Linked DNA regions of Homo sapiens: region 2 is linked to region 1. The links come from fine-mapping of genetic effects on gene expression. A gene starts in region 1. The other region holds a variant in brackets. All regions are shown on one strand. Distances are from middle to middle.

Region 1 (8,512 bases):
CAGAGACTGGAGAATAGCAACTGGAGGGACTCTGTGGAAACATCAAGTTTGAATAAGGGAATAGAAGATTCAACTAAAAAGATAAGTAGGAGGCCGGGCACGGTAGCTCACACCTGTAATCCCAGCACTTTGGGAGTCCGAGGCTGGCGGATCACCTGAGGTCAGGAATTGGAGACCAGCTTGGCCAACATGGTGAAACCCCGTCTCTACTAAAAAAACACAAAAATTAGCCAGCTATGGTGGCATGCACCTGTAATCCCAGCTACTCGGGAGGCTGAGGCAGGAGAATGGCTTGAACCCAGGAGGCGCAGGTTGCAGTGAGCAGAGATGGCGCCACTGCACTCCAGCCTGGGCAACAGAGAGAGACTCCATCTCGAAAAAACAAAAAAGATAGGTAGGAAATACACATGAGGAGGGCCTGAAGTCTAAGCTAAGGAGTGCTGGGATTACTCCATAGGCAGAGAGGAGCCTAGACTACACAGGTAGGTGTTCAGTCGTCCTATGTGGTGGCAAAGCAGCTGCTGGATTGGAGTGTCACACTGGCGGTGAACAGACCGTGGGACACGCCAGTGAGCAAAATGAGAGGCTGACACAGGGCAACGGCACTGAAATGACAAGAAAACAGCTGTAGTACTTGACAGATTTCATTGAATCTAATAAATCTGTATGTATGTACATATATATAGACACACACAAATTTTAACTTGTTATTAATCTTTATAGAGACAGTGTCTCACTCTGTTGCCCAGGCTGGAGTGCGGTGGCATGATTAGAACTGACTGTAACCTTGAACTCATGGGCTCAAGCGATCCTCCTGCCTTGGCTTCCCAAAACCCTGGAATTAACAGATGTGAGCCACCACACTGGCCAAATTTTAACATCTTTGTTATTGAAATACAAGTGTTTAATTTGCCGGCATATTTTTTAACAATACATAAAATACTACCGCATCTTAAAGTTGATGTTATCTTAGATTCAATGAAATATGATAACTGGATGTGAATAAGAAGGAATTCAAAAGCAAAGTTTCAAACCCGAGTGACTGGAAGGGAGTTTCCTTGAGCCCCACAGGAGAGTCTAACCAAATCTTCTATTTGAGCAATGATCCCCAGACAATACTGCTCTCCCACCTTCCCCACTTGAACTTATTAATAAGAGGAAGTAGTTATTAATGACAACTTTAATATGAACATGTGCTTAACCCTCAAGAAATTGTCACAACTGAAAGACGGGAGCAAGCTGACACTGCAAGGAACACATGATGCTTTGGAATGGGTGGCCTGCGTATTCAAACACATCAAAGCAGCAGTTACTTGAACAATCGGAACTTCTTCAAATACTGGCCCACTTCTTCCTTGGGGTAGGGCCGGAGAGCAATACAAGTGGCGATATTCTCTGGTTGCTCAAGCCACAGCATGTGGTCAATGTTCTTCTGTTGCAGGGTCTCGGCCAGCTCCTTTAGGGTGGTCTCATCTGGGGCCTAAAGGAGAAGAACACAGAACACAAACTGAATAGCCCACTTAGGAAGTGTCAAAAGGCCAAAAAAGGTTTCGGGAGTCCTCTTGCCTGAAAGTGGAGTAACAGCTTTACCAAGGAGGGAGCTGCAGAGCAATGATGTCATTCCGTGGTGCACTGGGGAGGGGAGAGAGGCTTCATATTCCAGTTTAGAAAATGGAGATTTGTATCTTCCCTTGTGAGATGTTGTATGCCCAACACACACATGTGTAATGTGTAATTCTGCTCTATACATTTTCCAGCTCTCCTATGGCTGGCGCCCATAATTTTAAGTGCCTCTGACTTTAAGAGCTGCCTAGTGGAAGTTTTTTTTTTTTTTTCTTTTGAGACAGAGTCTTGCTCTGTCGCCTGGGCTAGAGTGCAGTGGCACGATTATCAGCTCACTGCAGTCTCTGGCTCCCGAGTTCAAGCAATTCTCCTGCCTCAGCCTCCCGAGTAGCTGGGATTACAGGCGCACACCACTACACCTGGCTAATTTTTGTATTTTTAGTAGAGACGGGGTTTCACCATGTTGCCCAGGCTGGTCTGGAGCTCCTGACCTCAAGCAATCCACCCACCTAAGCCTCCCAAAGTGCTAGGATTACAGGAGTGAGCCACCATGCCCGGCCCCTAGTGGAAGGATTTCTAAAAGCACATCCACTTCCACTTTCCTCCACCCCTCCCACTCTACCTCACTGAAACCTAGAGGGGTTTTCCTTCTGCTGGGATGGCTCCCACTTGTTTATTAAAGGGAGAGTACAATATTCTCTAACATCCTTCTGAAATTGTTTCTGGGTCATCCTTACTGCCAATTCACCCATGCTGAATCCCATTCCAGGAAGTATTAAAACGATCACTCAGAAAATTATTATTTTTGTGTTATTTTGCATAAAGTTTATCTCTTACCTATGAAGGCAGAAGCCACTAAGCTACTCAGAGGCTTGTTTTAATAAATTAGAGAATGCCAGTATTGCGACTCTTAACCTGCTGAGTCCTTCTGGCAGAGCTCTGCTGGAGGACTCATCAGCTTCTTCAGCCTCGGGCAGCAGCAGAGCATAGTGAGATACAGTGAGGCTCTGGAATCAGACTACTGGACTCCAAACTCTTGCTGACTGTGTGATCGTGGATAAGTTAGGTGACTTCGCTGGCCTCTTCGTCCCTTTATAAAACAGGAATAATGCTTCCTAATGGGGATCAATGAAATCAGGCTTGGACCTGTGCCTGGCACACACTAAGCACTCAATAAATGTAGTTAATCCTGGTATTTTCTTATATTTTATTGGCCCTTCTGACTACAGCGGCACCTCAATGTAATCAGTAGCGACTCCTAAGTCCCTTTCTTGAGTCATGACTAACAACTAAGAATCATGAGACCCTCTTTTAAACTCAGGGGAGTCACTTAATCCCTGTAGGCTTCAGAGAGTTTCACCTGCGACAAGAGGAGTCTAACCTGATTTCTTGAGACCTCTTACTAGGAAGAAAATCTAAGTGAAAAGCCAGCAGCTTCTGTTCTGCCTACACAGATTCTCAAGGCATTTTTCCTACAGGTTACCGCTTGATGTTTCACTATCCAGCAGCAATTTTTCTCTTGAAAGATAATCTATCTTTGTCAGTTACCCATGAAGGGATTACTCCACCCCTCCACCTGAGTTCTGGCTTAAAGCCGTTTTTCCTTATTATAAAAAGCCGTTTATTATTAAAGCCGTTTTTCCTTATTATAAAATATGTGCTTAAGGTAGAAAATTTTAAAAATACAGATTAAGCATTAGGAAATAACCAAAATCTCACCATGCACTACTTAATATGTAGATGTATTTCTTTAGTTTTTCCTTTCAAAGTCTGGATCATTCTGTATATATAGTTCAGTTAGCTTCGCATCATGAGCACTCTTCCCGACCACTAAATATGCTTCAAAACCATAAGGGCTCCCATGAATATCCTTGTGCAAAGCTCTTTGGGTGCATCTGATTATTTTCTTAGGCTACATCTCTAGCAGCAGGATAGAGAGTCAAAGGGTAAGGGTGAGATTTGTTTGGTCATCTGCAAACAGAACCTGACTGCTATTTTAAAAGGTGTACCGATTTACACACCTGGTGCCTGGTCTAGCTGAAGCTAGGTTCAATTTATACTAACGTTTTTAGTATTTATTTTCAAATAATTTGGCGTCCTACCCAGGTAAATACTCAGTTTGACTTCACTTTGCACTGTCCCTTCGGGCTCGGTTTTGCAGGAGGACAGCACTTTGGGGCATGGCTTTAAAAAGTCGGCCAGTGCACAGGCGGAACAGCGGGGACACAGGAGCCACCACTTTACCGCGAGCCCAGCAGGGGGCGGAGGACTGCTGTCCACTCTTCACACAGTCAGGCCCTTCCCAAGGGCGCACCTCCAGGGAAACAGCTCCAGTCTAAATGTTAACGATCACCCCAACTCCCGCCGCACCCACTCCCCGCAGCCAGGCCTTCGGACCGAAGACCACACCCACTTCCGCCCTCGATGTCTCAGCACCTCCCCCTCCGCCCGAGTGCCTCACCTCGAGGACCACTTTGCGCATGCGCCCCAGCTCTTGGAGGTAAGCGGCTGTGTGCGGGTGGTCGCGGTGAGTGTGCAAGGCCGCGGTGGCCGCGTGACAAGCCTGCGCTACCAGTGCGCCCGCCGGCCAGGAGAACGGAGCTTGTGATAGATCCTTTCGTAACACCAAGTATTGTACCAGGACCTGCGGCTCCGCCCCAGAGGCCGCCATCTTCCTGACCACCCGAAAGGCCGGACCTACTCCCCGGTGCATCTTGGGATCAGGGCGGGGCCCTGAGCGCCGCCATGCTTTTGTACGGCAGGATCGCAAAGCACGCCGGGACCGGTTGGTTTGGTTTTGAAGACGTGGATGGCGGGAATTCTCGCTTCTGGCCTGGGTGAGCTAGAAGGGAGAAGGTAGGGGAAAGACCCATTGTCGGACCGGACCGTGGCCAGGGTGGCGGGCTGAACGGCCTTCTTAAAACTCCTTCCGTGGCCGGGAAGCCCGCTGGACCAGAGTAGCCGTGGCCTCGGGAGCGCGCCGGGGCCGCGGGATGGGCGCGGGGGTGGGCATGGACTCTGCTGGCTCGGACGATGGGAGAGGGCGGGCGGCTCAGGAAAGGGGATCCTAGCCGTGACATTTGTGTCATCCGCGGCCCAGGGGTTGTGCCTGAGTGGTGTGTGCCCTGCCGTCTGGGTTTGAATGGGACTAGATGTGATGTGACTGTTGCCATTTTTCTTTTATTAGCAAGGACATTGGAGTCCCTATCACCGGTTGCCTAGACAACTTCATGGGAAGGCCCTTGGGAATCTGAGATGGAGCAGGCGAACCCTTTACGTCCAGATGGCGAGTCCAAAGGAGGTATTCAGAGGGTCGCCGCCTCCTTCCTGCTGCTGCCCAAAGATGACCCGCAGGCTGAGAGAGCCCTTTCCTCCTGGAACTGACGTGGGACCTGGCCTGTTTGGGAGCAGAATAGTGAAAGGAACTAACATTGAAGACAAAGGGACAGGCAGCCAAGATTATTCGAGGAGGAAAAATGGCTTCGTTTCTAGGCTCCCACCCCTTTTGAAACGGATAAGTTGCATCCATCATATGCTCAGTGTTTATATTCTGAACTGCGGTTCTAGCCAGGGAGGTCCCTTTCCTCTCCCCGGATTTTTTGGGCCATGTATGCATTACTCTTGAGGGAGGGCCAGTGTAGGGCAGTGACTTTAGTGTTGGCTAGAACTGGTTTTGAGTGTTGGCTCTGCCATGATAAATATTGTGACCTTAGGCAAGTCACTTTATTCTCTGCCTCTGTTTCTTCATCTGGAAAATGGAGGTGAAAATAGCACTGTAGTTGTGGTTGTGGAAAAAGTATTTCTTTTGTGGTGGAAAAGTATTGAACTCAGACTTTTCAAGTGAAGCATTTAGCACATGTCTAATATATAGGAAATATTCAATGAAAGGCTTAATTCTTTACATACTTTGTGTCTTAAAATGTAGAAGGTGTTTAAAGAATGCTTGTTAGAGTTGCTTAGAATTACGAAACTATTACTTTTACTTAGTCCTTAGTCAATCCTTTGGAAACTGAGATTTGCGTTTGAATTTCTGTCCAGGAGTAAGTTGCTTTCTTCTTTAGTGCCTAGTAATATTTGTGGACAGTTCTGGTTTTGTGTGACTTTATGTTCTTTGCTACTAATACTTTTTAGAACTTTGAAATACTTACTCAAGCCTGATGCCTAAATCCAAAGGGTTCTACGTTAGTACTTTGGGAAAGCTTGCCATAAAACCTAACTTAAATTACAGTTTTAAAAAGAATTTCTGAGCGCGTCAGTGAATTTGGTTATCCTATTTTTCTCTGGGTCATCATTATCATTGATAACAGAGAAGTAACTATATTCAGCCTAAGATGACTTAAGCTGAGACTTTAGATAATAAAAGTATATGGGGTAAGATTTATTGTTACTTTAAGACTAAAAATAAGTTTGGTGACTTTATGTAGTGGAAACATGCTACACTCAGGAGTAACCTGTTCTCTAGTCCAGGCCTTATTTCATTTCTGTTAAAGTAAGTGATGAGGTGGAAGTTTTGGATTATCAAGAGACTTAGACCAGTCTCCTTATTCTCTACCCAAAACAATATTTAAACACTTAGCTGTTACCCATACTGGTTTTATCCCTCTGCTTGTTTGATTTCAGTTTTTTGCTTATTATTTGAATTCTCCCCACTCATTTGAGAAGGAAGGACATGGAGTTGTAGTTGCAACCAGATGATTTATTCAAATAGGCAGGGATTTTGACTTTTTTTGGGACAAAGCTGACTGGCTAGGATGAGATGCAATCATAACTTCCAAGGTAAAGCAGGCCCAGCAGATACACTCCCTCTTTTCTGTAGTAGCAACGCTAAACAACAACGCTACCCCCTTGGTGTAGAGGGAATCAGGTCGGTAAAGAAGCTGGGCAGGTTTGAGAGCCTGAGAAGAGGGCTGTGTGGAAGTGCCTAGAGAAGGAGCAGCATGATACTGTTTTGAACACCTACTTATCTCAGAAACTTTGGGAATATTGATATCTACTGTTTTAGTAATATAGAATTTCCATAAAGTAGAATTTGGTGAGGCGTCTCCTCTACCACCCTAAATTATTCTATGTGTGCGTGCTTTTCAGATCACCTCCTGGTTGGACATTAATTTTTGTAAGCTCCGTGAGGACAGGGACTTCGTTTTGCCACCACAGTATGAATAACTTCCAGCACGGTCCTTGGTCCATAGTAAATTCTCAATGCATAGTTGTTGGATAAATAGAGATTGGTGAATAAAGCAGTTAATCACGTGCTAATTATTAGGACTAATTTATTTAATTAGAATTTTGGTTTCTCACGATTATTATTGCGGTAATGTGGGTTTTTCTGTGGACATGAGCCAAGTGAATGTAATCTCCAAGAGTGTCATGCCTGGTTGTCCGTGTTTCGGTAAACATTTCCGGAGTGTTGGCCGGGCGCGGTGGCTCACACCTGTAATCCCAGCACTTTGGGAGGCCAAAGCGGGTGGATCACAAGGTCAGGAGTTCAAGACCAGTCTGGCTAACATAGTGAAACCCCATCTCTACTAAAAATACAAAAATTAGCCGGGCATCGTGGTGCATGCCTGTAGTCCCAGCTAATTGGGAGGCTGAAGCAGGAGAATTGCTTGAACCTGGGAGGTAGAGGTTGCAGTGAGCTGAGATCGCGCCACTGCACTCCAGCTTGGGCAACAGAGTGAGATTTCGTCTCAGAAAAAAATAACCATTTCCGGAGTGTTTACCATGTGTAAACACTTTGTGCTAGGGTTAAGGGATCCATGGGTGAACACAAATGCACACGGTCCCTGATTTTGGAACTTTAAGGTTCAGTGGAAAAGATAAGCAAATCAAATAATCACACTAATGAATATACAATTAAAACTATAGTGGCCGGGTGCGGTGGCTCACGCCTGTAATCCTAGCACTTTGGGAAGCCGAGGTGGGAGGATCGCTTGAGCTTAGGAGTTTGAGACCAGCCTGGGAAACATAGTGAGACCCCATCTCTTTATTTAAAAAACAAAAACAAAAAAACTATAGTATTGTCTCAGAAGGATCTTTGAGAGCTTATGAGCTGGCACCTGACCTTGTTCTGAAGGTGCTACAAAGGTTTCCCTGAGGAAATGCTGCTTGCATTGAGTGCTAACGAGCTAGAGTAGCTGCAGGTGAAGGTGGATAAGGGGCGGCTGTGGAAGAGCCTTTGGTGTGTGTGTTGGGGGTGGGGGGATCAGGTCAGTAAAGACGCTGGGCGGGTTTGAGAGCCTGAGAGGAGGCCTGTGTGGAAATGCCTAGAGAAGGAGCAGCATGATACTGATGAGGGTAAGAGAGATCCAGAGGCCAGTAGGCCTCGTAGGCAGTGTGAAGTCATCGAAAGGCTTTAGCCAGCTGGATGACACGATCCAGTTTAGATTTTGAAATATGGCTTCAGTGTATGGGCCACCTAGGAAACTTGTAATAGGCCAGAAATGGTAGTAGCTTGAACTACAATGGTGGCATTGCAGATGGGGAAAATGGAAATATTTTAGAGATACTAGGAATGTATATTCAATAGGATCTGGTAATGGATTGGGACTGGGTCAGGGAGAAGGTGTGAGGAAGAAAGTACTGGTTTACACAGCTATAGATGGATAATGGTTCCAGTCATGGAGGGGTTTAGAAGGGGAGATGATGAATTCAGTCTTGGACATGTTGATTGTCAGGTTCCTGTAAGTCTTCCAAGTAGATACACTGAGAAGGCAGGTGGATATTCTGCTTTCTCAAGAAGCAGGAGAGAGGTATAAGCTAGAGATACATATTTGTGTGGCATCGACATGTATGGCCATTAAGGCTGTGGGTACTGATGAGATTTCTTCTGGAAAGAAGAGGTCTTAGGACTGAGCTCTGGAAAATTTCAGCATTTAATGGTCAAGGAGGAGAGTAGGAGCCTTCAAAGCAGAAAGTGGGGTCAGAGAGGTAAAATGTAAGTGTCACAAAA
Region 2 (8,571 bases), 67 kb after region 1:
TGTGCTTGACAAATACATGTCACTGTAACCCATCACAGGCTGTGAGCATACCCACAGATGTTTCACAAACCAGTCTGTCTTGGTCCCGATTAATCCAGATTCTTAGAGTGTCCAGCCAATTTGGAAGCCAAAAAGTCACTGCACCCCACCAGGGCGTCCATCATGGCCTGACTACCTAAGCAGAGGGGGCTGTGGGAGGCAGGGAATGGAGAGAAGGACCAGGCCTAGTAACCTTGGGAGGCCAGAGCCCAAACAGCTCACCTCTCCCGGATGAGGGGACGAAGTACCACAATGTGTGAAATCTGGAAACTCCAATACTGCCGCCATTTAGACTAGGGGGCCCACGTGTGCTGCCCCTGCCCAAGAGATGTGTTCCCCACCTCAGTCACTCGAAGGACAGTCACTGGTCATCTATGCATGTCCCTGAGCTAAATGCTGGGAAGGTCAAAGGTAAACAGTACTCCAAAGAGCTTGGATGGGTGGGGCAATGGTCACACGTGGGAGAGACTGGTCTCCCAGGGCAGGAGTGCTTCACAGTCTTCAGCCAAATGCTGTAGGAACGTAGAGGAGGGAGGAGCTGCATAACTGTAAAAGTCAGCATATTTGGAAACAAGGCCTCCAGCATGAGAACAGGCACCAGACCAGTGTCCCCAGAGTCCCCAGATCAACAGGCCCCAAGAGAAGCAGGGCCACATTTAATCTCAGTGTTGGCGGGGCCAGACTAACAAGCCACCAGGCCATGTCATCTGGAACAGTGCGGAAATCACACAGACCCAGGGTCAGCCCAGAGCTCTTACCCTGCCAGAGCAGGAGAGGGGACACCGAACATGTGGGACTTCTGGTCACTGGCCTGGTCTCCTGTGCAGTCCCCAGAGACAGGGGCCACCGTGTAGGCCAAGGTGACTGCAGTCTCAGGAGACAGCCCACTGGGCCCAAAGATGGCCACGTGTGTGGTACCTGGAGCCCTCACCACGAATTATTTGGCAAAGAGCAGGTACTACTCCTTAGAGGTTTGAAGAGTTAACGAGCTGTCAACTAGGAGACCTGGCCCAAGGGGCAAGCCACCATCCTCTAGAACAGCGCTAATAGAACTTCCTGCAATCACAGAAATGTTCTGTATCTTTGCTGTCCAATATGGCAGCCACATTTAGCTACTGAGCACATGAAATGTGGCTAGTGCTACTGAAAGACTAACATTTTCTAATTAATTAAGTTTAATTTAAATAGCTACATATGACAAGTGGCTACCATACTGCTACCTATTGCAGCTCTAGAACACTGTAGTCACAAGTACTGTGCCAACTCTGATGGGCAGAGAGCAGCTGCCTCGAGCCCTGTGTTGAGAAGGATGCGGAGGGTTCGTATCTGTGACTGGCGGAAAGCAGACCCTTTGCATTCTCTCCTTGACCCAGATGCAGCAACTCAGTACCACCCTGGGCATAAAGGCCCAAGAAAATTATACCGACAAAATTTCCACCTTTACCCACGGCACTCCCTAAGCTCCGTCCTCTGCTTTCTCTCCACAGCCCTTCCCAGCTCCTGACATAGCACATACTCGTCTGTTTAATGTGTGTTGCCCACACTAGAATCTGTTCTGCTCACAACTGTATCCCCAGTGCCTAGAAAAGTCCTGAAATACTTGTGGTCTGAATTTTTTTTTTTTTTTTTTTTTTTTAAAGAGACAGGGTCCCGCTGTCTCCCAGGCTGGAGTGCTGAAGTGTAGTCACAGCTCACTGCACACTGATCTTGCTGGGCTCAGGTGATCCTCCCGCCTCAGCCTCCCAAGTAGCTGGGACTACAGGTGCGCACCACCACCATGCCTGGATTTTTTTTAAGTTTTTTTGTAGAGATAAGGTCTTGCCATGTCTGGTGTTGGACTCCTGGGCTCAAGAGGGGCTCAGTGACCCAGTTAGAATGTGAATGCAAGTCTTACTTGCAACCTTTGTTGACAGATCTTTCCATTTTCTAAGTGAGTCAAAAATCCAGGTTTTTATCCAGAATGTACAAATGTTTAAGTATTAGAAAATGTTAACACTCTGGGAAGGTCAAACAAAACAGATACCCACAGGCCAGCTGTGGTCCAAGGACTACCTAACTGATTCTTCCTGTTAATTAACAGATCTCCCAAATAGAGCCAGGAGGAAGTGCCAGCTGGTAAATGAGAGATCTCATTATTAAATGAAATAATCCAATGAAAACACCATCCAGGGCCTGGCACAAAATAAATGTTCAATAAAACTACACTCATTACTAACAAAACTTCATTCTTACAGCCAGATAAATATAAAATGCGCCACAACCCTGGCCACAATGCACAATTCTACAATTCTACAACTCTACAGTTCTCCAGCAATTCTACAACTGTTTGGAGAAAAATTCTGCTGGAGGATGTGGCAAAGGCTTAAGACCTGCCACAGCCCAGCAGAGCCCAGCTCAGAGGCCACACAGCCCATGCATGGGCCGTCAGCAGGACTGTCCTCACCAGCTCTGCTCAGGTCCACCCTGACACAGCCAACATCCTCCCACTGCCACCAGGAACCCACCACTGCTTTAGGACAACCTGTTTTCTATGGGTTCATCATCTGCATTATCTGAAATGTGGATTTGTTTTGCTAAGTCCTGGAATGTTGAAATGAAGAGCATTCTGTGACATCCAAGAGGTGAGAGTTGGAACCAACAGAAGGACCAGTGCCTACTTCGCATTATGGGGAACGCACCTGGCTTTTCTCACACTGAGAGGCATTCGAGGCTAAAAGAAAAACTAAAAATATTAGATATCTTTGTGGGTGGTTCTGTGAAGAAGATAGCGAGTACAATGCAAGGCTGATGCTGGGGGTGGGGACGTGTCTGTGTGTCTCCTGTGAAGCAGACAATGGATTTGACCCATTACATTAGACGCGGAGAATGCCATGATGCAGCCACGGTGCAACGAGCAAGACGCAGAGCAGCTATGGATCCACAGGCAGAGGCACAGCCCTCCCACTCGACACCAGCTTCGTCTCCTCTTCCCACTCTTAGTGGTCCCCCTGCCCCGACCTCACTGTTGCCAGGATAACAGTGGCATGGTGGGGCTTGGCACTAGAAGCCCAACCCCAGGCCAAGAGGCAACTGGCCTCTGGCTCTGACTCCCCTCTCCCCTACCAAGCGCCTATAAGAACAGGGCTCAGGGTTGATGACACCTTGTCCTAATAGCAAAAGGTCTTGGGGGAAACAGTGACCAGGCTTGGGCAAAGGTTACAGAGGAAGAACATTCAGAAAAGCAAGAGATACAATCCAAGCTTAGGAAATGGCAGCCTCCCAGTGTCCCAAGCTCCGGGGCTCCCAGGAGAGGGGCCTGACGCTTGTGGTCAATGGGCGGTTCTTCCCTGTAAGACCGGCATGAAGGAAAAACACCATCCCTAGTAACAGGTGACCCTGCACGTGGGTTAAAGCAGAAGGAGAGGTGGGGAGAGGCAGCTGTGTCTCTGTGCAGTCCCCCAAGACCTGAATGGAAACCCACCCAGCGTCCACCTCAGCTGTCTCCCCAGGATCCCAAGGGTGAAGATGGGGATGGCTTTCTACCCTAGACCCTGTGCAGTCTGCCCTGGGCTCTCCCTCTACGTGCCCTGGCTGCAGCATCCTCCTGTCTGAGGGTGGGCACTGTGGACAGTCCTCACCTCCGAGGGAGGACCAGGCACAGGGCCAGTTAACCACACAGGACGCGTGTGAAGGAAGCATAGGCCTGCCCCTGTCATCCCTCCATCTTCCCACATCCTCCGTCAACCATGTTCCGATCCCTGGGAAGTGATTCTGAGTATGATTCAGAGAGGCTCAGTTTTGTAGCTCCACCTGGCAGCAGGTGTGTGCTGAGTGGGTTTTCTGGGTGCCGCCTGTTGCCAGGTGGCGGCTGGGGTGCTTAGCAACCCTCAAGGTCCCCAACTAACCCCTGAAGTGTGGTCACATGGGAATAAAGACAAACAACTCCAGTTCTGTCCTCTGGGCCTCCTGCTCTACCCTCACATGCCCACAGAGCCGGGAGGCTGGACCAAGGTCAGCATGCACCCTGGCGGCCCCGCACCACAGGGAAGCGCCATGGCACTGCCTGCGAAGCCAGATATGTG[T/C]TCGGCAGAGGCAAAGAGGACGCTTCGCATGCCAGGGCTGCACCAAGAGCTCCAAATCCACAAGGCCTCAGGGCAGGGCAGGCTCCACTACCTCCCTGAAGGAGACTGGAGCCAGGGAGGTTAAAGCAGCAAAGCCACTGGAATCTGAGACCCTTGCCATTACCCAAATGCTCTGTTGCCTCAATGCACCCTTTGACATGTGGACATGCTCACCCCAGTGAGGAGGCAGAAAGGGATGCCTGTGCTTGAGGGACTGTGCCGCCTCACCCTCCTGGACCATGGCTGGCTGCCCACCCATCTGGGAGTTGACTGTCATTAGGAGGCTGGTCATCTTCATAACAGAAGGTACAACTTCCCAGGGGATGGCAAGAGAGAGAGCGGGCTCAGGTCACCAGCGCATCCCTACACCTCACTTCACAGCAGAGGAGGAAGCTGAGGCCCAGCGAGGAGACACCTGCTGGGACAGCCACATGGCCAGGGCTGCCCTTCAGCCGCACACTCTTAAGGCAGCTTAGAAAACAAGATAAATAGCCGAGCATGGGGCTCACGACTGCAATCCCAGCACTTTGGGAGGCCAAGGCAGGCAGATCACTTGAGATCAGGAGTTTGAGACCAGCTTGGCCAACATGGTGAAACCCCGTCTGTACTAGAAATACAAAAATTAGCTGTGTGTGGTGGTGGGCACCTGTAGTCCCAGCTACACGGGAGGCTCAGGCAGGAGAATCGCTTGAACCTGGGAGGTGGAGGTTGTAGTGAGCCAAGATCGTGCCACTGCACTCCAGCCTGGGCGAAAGAGTGAGACTCCATCTCAAAAAAAAAAAAAAAAAAAGATAAGAGCACCTGACCAAATAAAAAGTGAGACATGGACCCTGGGCACTCAATTCTGGAAGGAGGCCCCTTTTTTGCAGAGGGTAGATTAACGATTGTTTTTATAGGAGACACTCATAATTTTTTTAAATGGAGAATTTTCTTAAAAAAGACATTAAGCACACATGTAAGTAAGGGATGGCCTGCTCTGACACTGACCTCAAATGGCTCTTTGGAGCCACTTCCAAACCAGGTTCTGTTTCCTCTCATACCAGGACTGTCTGCGGCCCTTTCCAAAGTGTTTTTCCATCTATTATCTCATTTTTATTCTCATGAGGAGCTTTTACAGGAGGAAAGTGAAACGGGGTCATGCAGCCTCTAGTACCGGCCTGCACTCAGCTCCGAAGACCCGTCAGCTGATGTTTCTGAAACGTCAAATCAGCCCAGAGCCCACGCCACTCCCAACGTCAGCCCCAATGCCTTGGGAGGGAGTGACCTCTGTCCTGGCTGGAAGAGAGAAGGGGAAGGATGCACAGGCCCCAGCCAGCTCCCATCCTACCTCACCACCCTGACTTCAGCCGGTGCCTCCCCAGGGGCTGGGGGCCAGCGTGACGGCATCTTGGAGCCCCAAAGGGCTTCATGGTTTTTAGACTCCCCTCTGCCTTATTTCATGTGATTCCCAAACTATCCCCTAACAATGGTATTATTTTTAATCCCATTTTCAGAAAATTAAACTAAAGACCAGAGAGGTAAAGTACCAACACCACACAGAGAAAGCCAGGGCTCACAGTCCCCCAAAAACGCTGGCAGAGGCTGTGGATGCAAATCCAGGTCCAAGATGACCAGCGGGGTCATCCCTCCCCAACCCCCAGTACAGACAGGTATCCACCACAAGGTGAGGCTGGAGCATAGGACTGTGGGACTGTGCTAGGGTCTGGGTCCCTTGTCCTCACGTGCAAGGCCTGTCCCAGGGCTCACCAGGTCCCTTTCTATCTGGTTTTAAAAATCAATCTCGGTAGCCGGGCGCGGTGGCTCACGCCTGTAATCCCAGCACTTTGGGAGGCTGAGGTGGGCGGATCACGAGGTCAGGAGATCGAGACCATCCTGGCTAACACGGTGAAACCCCGTCTCTACTAAAAATACAAAATATTTGCCGGGCATGGTGGCGGGCACCTGTAGTCCCAGCTACACGGGAGGCTGAGGCAGGAGAATGGCGTGAACCCGGAAGGCGGAGCTTGCAGTGAGCCGAGATCGTGCCACTGCACTCCAGCCTCGGGGACAGAGCGAGACTCCGCCTCAAAAAAAAAAAATTAATTAATTAAAAAAAATAAAAACAAATAAAAATCAAGCTCGGGTCCCAAGTTTTCTTTTGGGGGAAGATGTTGCGGAACTAGCTAGAGGTGGTGGTGGCACAACATGGTGAGTGTACTAAACCACTTTCAAGGGGTTTCATTTTAGCTCTATAAAAAAGAAAAAAAAATGAAGCAAACCTGAGTTTTTCTAACTGCATATCTAATTTATAATACCATATTCATTTTTAAAAATTATTTTTCAAAAAAAGTCCCAGATTAAGGGAGGTTTTGGTGGCCTCTTCTACTTTTCTATATCTTCAAAATTGTATCCAACAATCATATGATGGTAGAGAGTTTGAGTGTCTATGTGCAGGCACTGTGCAATAACTACTTAACACTTATCTCCCCTAAGGCCATAGGAGAGGGGCAGAGACTCTGGTACTTGGCTCTCAGCTGCTATACTATGTGAGAGGAAGGTGTTACATTTATAATCTCTTAATCAGGATAAAACATGGCTAGGACACTCTCAAATATCAGGACCAAAAAAAAGGCTTGAAGGAATATGCCTCTGTGATGGTTAATACTAAGTGTCAACTTGATTGGATTGAAGGATACAAAGTATTGATCCTGGGTGTGTCTGTGAGGGTGTTGCCAAAGGAGTTTAACATTTGAGTCGGTGGGCTGGGAAAGGCAGACCCACCCTAAATCTGGGTGGGCACAATCTAATCAGTGGCCAGTTTGCTAGAATATAAACAGGCAGAAAAAGGTGAAAAGAGAGACTGGCCTAGCCTCCATACAGCCTACACTTTTCTCCTGTGCTGGATGCATCCAGCTCTCCAACAGTGGACTTGAAGTTCTTCAGTGTTGGAACTCGGACAGGCTCTCCTTGCTCTTACCTGCAGATGGCCTATTGTGGGACCTTGTGATCATGTGAGTCAAAACTTAATAAACTCCCCTTCATAGATATCTATTCCATTAGTTCTGTCCCTCTAGAGAACCCTAATACAGCCTCTATCAGTCTTTTATTTTAGAGATGGAGGTCTCACTATGTTGGCCAGGTTGGTCTTGAGCTCTTGGCCTCAAGCAATCCTCCTGCCTCAACCTCCTAAAGTGTTAGGATTACAGGCGTTGAGCCACTATGCCAACCTCTTTTTTATTTCTTTATAATTGTATATTCTTGCCAAATATTACACAGTGTAGGCCAAGAAAGCAAAGGAACTCTTCCAAACTTGAGTTTATCTGTCTGTGGCTTGAGCCAAATGAGGATAAGGCAGGAAACAGCCCACAGGATGTCACTCCTGCCTTGAGGCTGGTTCCCTGGGGCTGGGGTTTTCAAATAGGAATCCTTTGGGGAGGGTTTCCAAAAGCAATGAGGTATTTTCTAGATAAACAAGGAAAACTTAAGTGCCTAAGTATACTCTCACTCATTGCTGGTGGAGTATAAATTGTTTGAAGCTCTATAGGAGGCCGGACGTGGTGGCTCATGCCTGTAATCCCAGCACTTTGGGAGGCCAAGGCAGGCGGATCACCAGAGGTCAGGAGTTCGAGACTAGCCTGTCTAACATGGTGAAACCCCGTCTCTACTAAAAATACAAGAAAAATTAGCTGGGAGTGGTGGTGGGCACCTGTAATCCCAGCTACTCGGGACGCTGAAGCAGGAGAATAGCTTGAACCCGGAGGCGGAAGCTGCAGTGAGCTGAGATCGCACCACTGCATTCCAACCTGGGCGACAGAGCAAGACTCTGTCTCAAAAAAACAAAACAAAACAAAAAAAGCACATTCCAGATTCCTCAAAAAATTAAACACAGAACTACCATATGACCTGGCAATTCCACTTTTGGGTATATATCCAAAAGAACTGAAAACAGGGACTCAAACAGATATCTGTACACCCGTGTTCACAGCAGCACCATTCCCAATAGCAAAGCCGCAGAAAACACCCAAATGTCCAAATGAACAAACAAAACGTGGTGTATACATGCAAGGAGATATCAGCCTTAACGGGAAAGAAATGCTGATCTGCCCGACGACACAGAAGAACCTTGAAGACATCATGCTAAGTGAAATAAGCCAGTCAAAAAGGGACAAATACATGATTCCGCTTATATAAAGGACCTAGTAGAGGCAAATTCAGAGACACAGTAGAACAGTGGTTACCAGAGTCTGGGAGAATGGGCAGTTATTGTTTAATGGGCACAGAGTTTCTCTTTGGGATGATGAAAAAGTTCTGGAAACGGACAGTGGTGATGGCTGCACGACATTGTGAATGCACTTAATGCCACTGAATTGTATACTTAATGATTAAAATGGTAAATTTTATACTATGTATATTTTACAGTAGCTATATATATAATTTTTAAAATGCAAATGTC

Alleles and levels. Positions count from the first base shown, and alleles are read on the strand shown. Sizes are in standard deviations (SD) of each study's normalised expression.
For the expression in tibial artery of the gene that starts at base 4,324 in region 1, T is the low allele of the variant in region 2 and C is the other (small effect, 0.31 SD a copy in GTEx).

Evidence for each region.
Region 2: its variant is fine-mapped to the expression of CENPO in tibial artery (GTEx, PIP above 0.99).

The regions. Positions count from the first base shown.
Region 1 is chr2:24,789,102-24,797,613 of GRCh38, forward strand. CENPO (centromere protein O) reads left to right here and starts at 4,324. Exons shown (of 8, transcript NM_001322101.2): 1 at 4,324-4,400; 2 at 4,751-4,864. The coding sequence starts at 4,819. It overlaps PTRHD1 (peptidyl-tRNA hydrolase domain containing 1), which reads right to left and starts at 4,290. Exons shown (of 2, transcript NM_001013663.2): 1 at 4,025-4,290; 2 at 627-1,480. The coding sequence starts at 4,276. The coding sequence ends at 1,310. It overlaps LOC105369164 (a long non-coding RNA gene), which reads right to left and starts at 3,974. Exons shown (of 3, transcript XR_939843.4): 1 at 3,666-3,974; 2 at 3,283-3,483; 3 at 1,491-2,678. RefSeq lists a silencer at 2,110-2,189 and an enhancer at 3,951-4,380.
Region 2 is chr2:24,856,341-24,864,911 of GRCh38, forward strand. The region is part of intron 3 of ADCY3 (adenylate cyclase 3); the gene reads right to left. Among named protein-coding and RNA genes, the nearest start is that of ADCY3, 60 kb to the right of the region's middle. The variant T/C (reference allele first, on the strand shown) is at 4,101.